Homo sapiens: one gene and its partner. The protein of the gene in region 1 interacts with the protein of each later gene in a pairwise test. Each region holds a gene or a part of one and is shown in the gene's direction. Other genes may lie near its edges.

Region 1 (3,942 bases):
TGAGGAGATCGACACCAGCCTGACCAACATAGTGAAACTCAGTCTCTACTAAAAATACAAAAATTAGCCAGGCGTGGTAGCAGGTACCTATAGTCCTAGCTCCTCAGGAGGCTGAGGCAGGAGAATTGCTTGAACCTGGGAGACGGAGGTTGCAGTGAGCCGAGATCGAGCCACTGCACTCCAGCCTGGTGACAGAGCGAGACTCCATCTAAAAAAAAAAAAAAATCCAAACTGCAGACAGGTATGGTGGCTTATGCCTGTAATCCCAGCTACTTGGGAGGCTGAGGCAGGAGGACTGCTTGAGCCTAGGAGTTGTCACAGTGAGCTATGATCATGCCACTGTACTCCAGCCTGGGTGCCTGATCAAGATCCTATCTCAAAAAAAAAAGAAAGAAGAATCCAGAGTTTTATTTTATTTTGAGAGAGTTTTGCTCTGTCTCCCAGGCTGGAGAGCAGTGGTGTGATCTTGGCTCACTGCAACCTCTGCCTCCTAGGTTCAAGCAATTCTCCTGCCTCAGCCTCCCGAATAGCTGGGATTACAGGCGTGTATGCCGGGCTAATTTTTGTATTTTTAGTAGAGACGGGGTTTCACTGTGTTGGCCAGGCTGGTCTCAAACTCCTGACCTCAAGTGATCTGCCTGCCTCGGCCTCCCAAAGTGCTGGGGTTACAGGCATGAGCCACCACGCCTGGCCAGAGTTCTTAAAATGACCTACAAATCTCAACATGACTTGGATCCAGCCTGCCCCACTGACATCCTCACCTTTCTGACTCTCTCACCCAAGGCAATCCCTCCCTCTGGAATGCCCTTCCAGAATAGAATGTCTTTTCAATTTCATGCCCCTGCCTCAGCATCGCCTCCTCTGAGAGGCCTTTTCTAACCAACCTGTCTAGTGGCACCACCCCGTAACTCTGTTAGGGCGTCCCTTCCTCTCCTTCACAGTCCTGGGCATTTTGTGGTTTCCTTGTATACTGTCTGTAACAAAGGAAGTACCTGAGCAAGTAGCCACCCAGTGGGTTCTTCTTCCTGGCTGCCCAGATAGAGCCAATGTATCAAGACAGGGGAACTGCAATAGAGAAAGAGTTTAATCCACACAGAGCTGGCTGAATGGGAGACCAAAGTTTCATTACTCAAATCAGTCTCCCTGGAAATTCAGAGCCTAGAGTTTTTAAAGGGTAATTTGGTAGATAAGCTGCCAAGGAGTAGGGAGTGCTGATTGGTGGGGTGGGAGATGAAATCACAGGGTGTTGAAGGATGCAAGAACTGGTTGAGTCAGATTACAGCTCTAGGTGGCCTTGGCTGGTGCATCAGACTGCAGGGTCAGAAAAACACCTAAGAGTACCAATCTTAGGTTTTACAATAGTGATATTATACCTAGGATCAACTGGGGAGGTTTAGAATCTTGTGGCCTCTGGGTGCATGACTCCTAAACCGTAATTTCTTTCTTTCTTTCTTTTTTTGAGATGGAGTCTCAGTCTCTTGCTCAGGCTGGAGTGCAGAGGCATAATCTCAGCTCACTGCAACCTCCATCTCTCGGGTTCAAGCAATTTTTGGGCTTCAGCCTCCCTAGTAGTTGGGATTACAGGTGCGTGCCACCATACCCGGCTAATTTTTGTATTTTTAAATAGAGACATGGTTTCACCATGTTGGCCAGGCTGGTCTCAAACTCCTGACCTCAAGTGATCCACCTGCGTCAGCCTTCCAAAGTGCTGGGATTACAGGCGTTAGCCACTGAGCTGGGCCCTAAACTATAATGTCTAATCTTGTAGCTAACGTGTTACTCTTACAAAGGAAGCCTGGTTCTCAGGCAACAAGGGGGTTTGTTTTGGGAAAGGGCTGTTAACTATCTTTGTTTCAATATTAAACTATAAACTAAGTTGCTCCCAAAGTTAGTTCTGCCTATGCCTAGGAATGAACAAGGACAACCTGGAGGTTAGAAGCAAGATGGAGTGGGTTAGGTCAGCTCTCTTTCACTGTCATAATTTTCTGTTGTAATTTTTGCAAAGGCAGTTTCAAGCGCAGGGACAGTGACCGTGTGGTTCAAGGTTTTATGTAATGCACCTCCCAAACTCAATAAATATTAGTCGCATAAAAGAAAAAATGCAGCCCTGGAGGAAGATGCCCTGCCCTGTTGCTGGCATGAGTGAAGAGGAGGCGCTCACAGGGACGGTTCTTTCCCTATTCTCCAGCCTCGTGTACATTGGGCAAACAGGCCCCGACCATCCCACGTGCTCAGCCCCAGCTCTAGGCCAAATCGCCTCCGCTCCCACTGACGTCATCACGGCGCATCACGTGCCTCCCGAGACCCCACCCCCCACCGTGACGTCCCGGGCCTCGGCCCTGGTCCAAAGTCTACCCGCCTCCTTGTGACAGAAGTGCGACTGCCAGCTGCCGAGGCGTTCGGTCCTGCTGTTGCGGCCGCTGCCCCAGGGCTGCGGGGACGGTGAGTCGACTGGACGCATTCGGAGACGGCTTCGCGCGGGAGCCCTCCTCCCCGGGGGAAGGGTCTGGGCGCCAGCTCTCCTCAGGTCGGGGCGTGACCTCGGACCGTGGCGCCCCCTCCCCGCCCCCGCCCGCGGCGCCTGGGCGGTGCATGCCGGGCACCGTAGTCCCCAGCCTCTCAGAGCGGGTTGTGGTGGGGGGGGTGACCGGGCGGACTACAAGTCCTAGAAGCCTCTGGGCGGTGGGGTGGGCGGTGGGTTGGGGGGTTTCGTTGTGCGCGCAAAGCCGCGCGGGGCTGAGGGTCTTGTTCTGCCGGCGCCTGTCCGGACCCGGGCCCCTCTCCGCTTTCGGCCGGCCTCGGGCACCGGGCTTCTGGAGGTAAAGCGGGGCCGGCGGTTGGGGCGCGGCATGGCGGGGCCCGTCCTCCCCTCAGGGCGCTGCCGAGACCTAGCGCGGCCCTGGGGATGTCGAAGCCGCTGCGGTGGCGGGGCCCGGGCGGGCGCCCCGCTGTGTGCCGCGGGGTTGTGCGCCCGGAATGGCAGCCTGCTCGCCCGCACGTTTTTCCGTCAGGGAAGGTTGTGGAAATTGCCATCTCCGTCTTGCAGGGCGAGACGGGGAGGGGAGGGGTGGGAGTTGTTTTCTCAAGGAAAGGGGGTCGAGGAGGAGCCCCGTGGCCGAGCCAGCCCCTGCCGAGCCCCGCGGGTGACCTTGGCCGTCCCGGAGCCCAGCAGTGTCCTGCACCCGCGCCCGGCTCGCCGACGTGTGGAGTCGGGATGTGGCGCTCGGCCGCGCATCCCCGGCGGAGATGGCGACGGCCTGGCCTAGCTTGGGGCTAGGAGTCGCGCCTTCGAGGACCTTGGCTTAGCGAGTTCCTTGGGGGGCTTCTCAACAGGTGTTAGATGAGGTGGGGCGAGTGGCTGTGAGTTCCTCCAAAGGTGGGCTCAAGATCCTCTGCGTCAGAACCACCTGGGGCTCTTGGGAAACGGGCAGATTCCTGGGGCCCACCCCAGGTGTTGGGATGCTGTAGTTCCGTCGCGCTGCCCAGGAATCTGCATTTAGTAGGCTCCCCAGATCATTCCCGGGCGCAGCTGGGGCTGAGAACCTGTCCCAGTGAGGGGGTTGGCGGGCCCGGGGGCAGGGACGTTCCATAGTGTTTCTGCCAGTTTCTTCTGTATTCTGGGGCCTGATGCTGGGCGGGGCGGTGCCCGGGCAAGTTACTGCTCTCCTGGGTTCTTTGCTGCTTCCCTTGGGGCCGATCTAGGTAGAACTGGGTGGAGGGAGGCGTGCCAGCTCTGCCTTGCCCTCTGCCCTTAATCGGAAAGGTTATGCCCAGTCACTTGCCAGTCTCAGAAGACTCCCCCTCTACACATTCAGTTACGAAAAACGTGAAACATACAAAAGTTGAAGGAATTTTACAGTGAACACCCACAGACCACCACCTAGAATGTAGAGTTAACACTTTATTGTATTTCATCACATATTTGTCCAACCAGCAGTCCCT
Region 2 (3,600 bases), on another chromosome or scaffold:
CCTTCTGCAACTTTTTTCCTTCTAACCAGGCTTTAGAGAGCTTACGAGGAATCTTGATTAGTTAGACTAAGGAAATTACATTTTCCCTGCGAATTGAGCTAAATTTGAGGAAATATTCTGTTACGCATGCACTGAGATTCTTGTAAGATTGTGTGTGTGTGTGTGTGTTTAAAGCCTTCATTACTACAAATATTAAAACAAAACAAAACAAAACATTTTTAACCACCCAGATTGTCCAACCCTCTCACTGAGTGAGGAACCAGAAGACCAGAGAGGGCCTGGGCATTGCCTGGGGTCACACAGCAGTGAGTGGCAGAGCCCAAGGGCCCAGAATTCCTCATGGACTCCAGCCCAGTGCTCCTTCCACACTCCCATGCTGGCTTGGTTTGGAACTGCTGGGGCCTGAAGAAGGGCAGAGAGTGAGCCCAGGACTCGGGGCTTAGTGCAGCCAAACTTGAGGGCTCATCAAAGCCTTGGCTGAAAAGACTCTTCACCCATACCCCTCACTCAGACACCATGGAACCTGGCTCAGTCATTCCTCCACAGAGGGAAGCTAACACGCCTTGGAATGAGCACTGGTTGGGGAGTCAGGAGTCCAGGGATCCAGCCCAGCCAGGCCACTTCTTAGCTCAGCAGCACTGGGCTGCTCCTGTCACCTCTCTGGCTTCCTTGGCGGTTAAAAAAAAAAAAAGAGCGAGAAACCCCCCGAAAACAAATGGGGGTCAGGGGCGGAGGCAGGTAACACAGCCCCTGTAGTCACATGCAGAGTGAATTCGAAACCAGCTCTGGAGTCACACTGCCTGGGACTGAATCCCACTTCAGTGCTATGTGACTAAGGCAAGGAACGTAAACTCTCTGTACATGTTTCCTCATCTGTGAAACAGGGATAATAATAACAGGACCTACCCCCTTAAACCAGTTGTGAGGAAATTAAGTAAGATAATTCTGTATATGTGGAGAGTTCAGGATAGCGCCTGATACATAGTAGGTGTTCTGCATAACTGTGTAAATAACTGTAAAAAATTACCTGCTATTGTTACTGCTCCTTGAGCCTCCATTGACCTCACACTCCCTGCCCAGGACATGATACATGCTTGGAAGACTCAGATGTCTGTATGCCCAGAGCCTAGCCCAGTACCTGGGACTTACGTAGTAAGAGTGGGGCGCGGGGGGCGGGGGCGGGGGGCAGCAGCAGGAAGGGGAATTGCTCAATACACGCTCCTGGAAATATTAATTTTTTGAAGTGGATGCATGCAATGCACTGAGCCCCCCTCCCCTACAAACTCTCCCTCCCACACCCAAGCAGCTCCTCCAGGACTCAAGGGCTGGTGAATGAATCTTTGAATGATAAATATTCCTATTTTGATGTCCATTAATAATGAGCTTGTAGGCAAGATGAGTCATCTAGACCTGGTTCACGGATATCCCTACAATTCCAGAGCCACAGAGTCAACGATCCTGGACATTCATTCATTCAACAAACATTAACTGGGTGCGTGGCAACCTACTGATTCATGAGTTGGAAGAGGATAAAATATTATATAGAAGCCATACTTAATGTTATTGGACACGTGTTCCCTAAGCGCCTATCCTCTGATCTTGTGCAAACTATACTTATGTGACCTTGTTTATGAATTAATGACGGCCAGCTAATCCTTCAGAAGACTCCAATTTTAGGTTTGCGCAAAAGCCCTTCAGCCTTTACAAACGAGGACCTGTCTTTCTGGGTTGAGCTAACTCCTCTGCTAGTTAAAAGCTTTCCTGTGTCTTTAAAAGGGGGAGGCATCCTATCAAATGGACCCTAACGCATAGGCTGAAGGCACGTGAAGTCCCACCCACTTTCTATGACGTCCCGCGTCCCGGCTTCTGATTGCCCGCCTGAGACGTCAATCGCAGGGCGTGTGTCTTGCTGGGACACAGTGGAGGTCTAACCTTTGGTTTGCGGAGCGGTCGGGTGTATTCTCCGCCGCCCCCACGCCCTCGAGGTCCCCGCCACCGAACCAGCGGCGGAGCCCGCCCGCGCCTCCCGCGGCATTCCCGCACCGGATCGCTCCTCGCTGGGGCGGGACCTGGCCTGGCGGCTCTGGTCACTATGGTCAGTGATCGTGGGGGATCGCGAAGGGGGAGCGGGCAGGGGGCGCGGTGGGCGGGGTCGCTGCCGGAGCGGGTGCACCCGCGGGACGGGGGTCGGACGCGAGGCTCAGCCCCCAGCTCGCCCCCGCCGCTTTCCGACCCCCTGAAATACGGAGTCCGGACGGATACTGAGGGCCAAGTCGCGCCCCCCTGTACCCCGTGGATGTGCAGCTGAGGAGGTCCAGCTCGGCCCCGAGCCCCCGCCCCCAGCGTGTCCGCCCCAGGTGGCCCGGGGCGCCGCCTCGACGGCGCTGGGTGGGCGCCCTCGACGGAAGCAGGGACAGGGAGGCTGCAGCACTACGGGTCGCCTCCTCTTTGTTAAGTAGCCCCCCAGTCAGCAGTCCACGGCCCCACCCACCCGACGGCTCGGCCGTCAAAGACCTCCTGGCCCCTGCCCCAACCCCAAGGGAGGATCTAGGGGTTGCACGGGGCACCAGGTCGTCTGCTCCGTGGGCGACTAGACCGTCTCCATCTTTGGAGTCAGGACCCACCTAGAGAGGATGCCTCAAGTTGTGAGGCGCATGAGTTAGGGGTCGGGGAAAAGAAAATACTCAGGAATCCCTGATGGAGAGCCTTGTCTGCGCAGAACGAGGCCCAGAGACCCTCTGAGCCAGGCTAACCCTGGGCTTGGGCAGGTGGGGAAACTGAGGCCAGACAGGGCAGGGCTGGTACTGATTGTGGTGGACCTGGGGCTTGAACCCAGGCTCTGGACTCTCAGTTCAGTGCTCTTTGTGTTACATCGGCTCACCTTCCAGGTTGCCGTGGGGTCAGGCATCCTGCAGGGGACTGGGTGGCATGGCTGCCTAAGACCCTTCAACCCTGAGCAGGGGGAGCCTGTGGAGTGAGGGCTGGGTGGCTTGAGTCGGGGCCACACAGCCCCAGGTTCAAGTCTCACTTCCACCTGTTGGAAAGCGAAGAGGCTTTGGTTGGTCCGCTCTCCCCCTCAGCACCGTTTTGCACATCTGTGTCATGGGAACCATGTGATATGATTAGCTGGAGCTTTTCCTGTGACAACAGAGTCCTGGAAATGGGTGTGCACAGATGCCTGGTTCTTCAAGCTTAGCCTCCTCTCTCCTATGACTGGGCAGGAAAATGGGTCACCACGGCAGCATGCTGCCGGGCTGGGGCATGGGTCAAAGCCTGGTCATGGCCTGGCACGATCTGGGTGTGGCATAGGCAGCCAGGGCACTCGAGCTGGGACTGTCCTTGCCAAGCCAGCCTGCTGCCTGGGGCATAGCTGGGGGCCTCTGGAGCATCTGGAAGCACCAGCTTCCTGCTTCCACTTGGTGCCCAAGGGTTTACCTGGTTGAGCTGCTCCTGGAAGGCAGCCCAGGTGTTTCTGCATCACCCACCAGGGAGTGGTGGAGCTGGGGTAATGATGGGCTTAGCCACCCGGGAGCTGGAGGCTGGCATGCCCTCTGGCCACCACTCGGCAGCTGAGAGCACAGCAGAGGCGGTAGCTGCTCT

The links. The genes of interacting proteins can lie anywhere in the genome.
Region 2: the proteins of CDIP1 (region 1) and OTUB2 interact in binary tests that used the Homo sapiens proteins (3 or more experiments, as listed by UniProt).

Annotation. Positions count from the first base shown.
Region 1 is NC_000016.10:4,537,202-4,541,143, reverse strand, and holds the start of CDIP1 (cell death-inducing p53-target protein 1), read left to right. Parts: upstream 1-2,370; 5' UTR 2,371-2,442; exon of another isoform or gene 2,443-2,543; intron 2,544-2,714; exon of another isoform or gene 2,715-2,819; intron 2,820-3,942. UniProt on the Homo sapiens protein: Acts as an important p53/TP53-apoptotic effector. Regulates TNF-alpha-mediated apoptosis in a p53/TP53-dependent manner.
Region 2 is NC_000014.9:94,024,446-94,028,045, forward strand, and holds the start of OTUB2 (ubiquitin thioesterase OTUB2), read left to right. Parts: upstream 1-1,894; 5' UTR 1,895-2,092; coding exon 2,093-2,095; intron 2,096-3,600. UniProt on the Homo sapiens protein: Hydrolase that can remove conjugated ubiquitin from proteins in vitro and may therefore play an important regulatory role at the level of protein turnover by preventing degradation.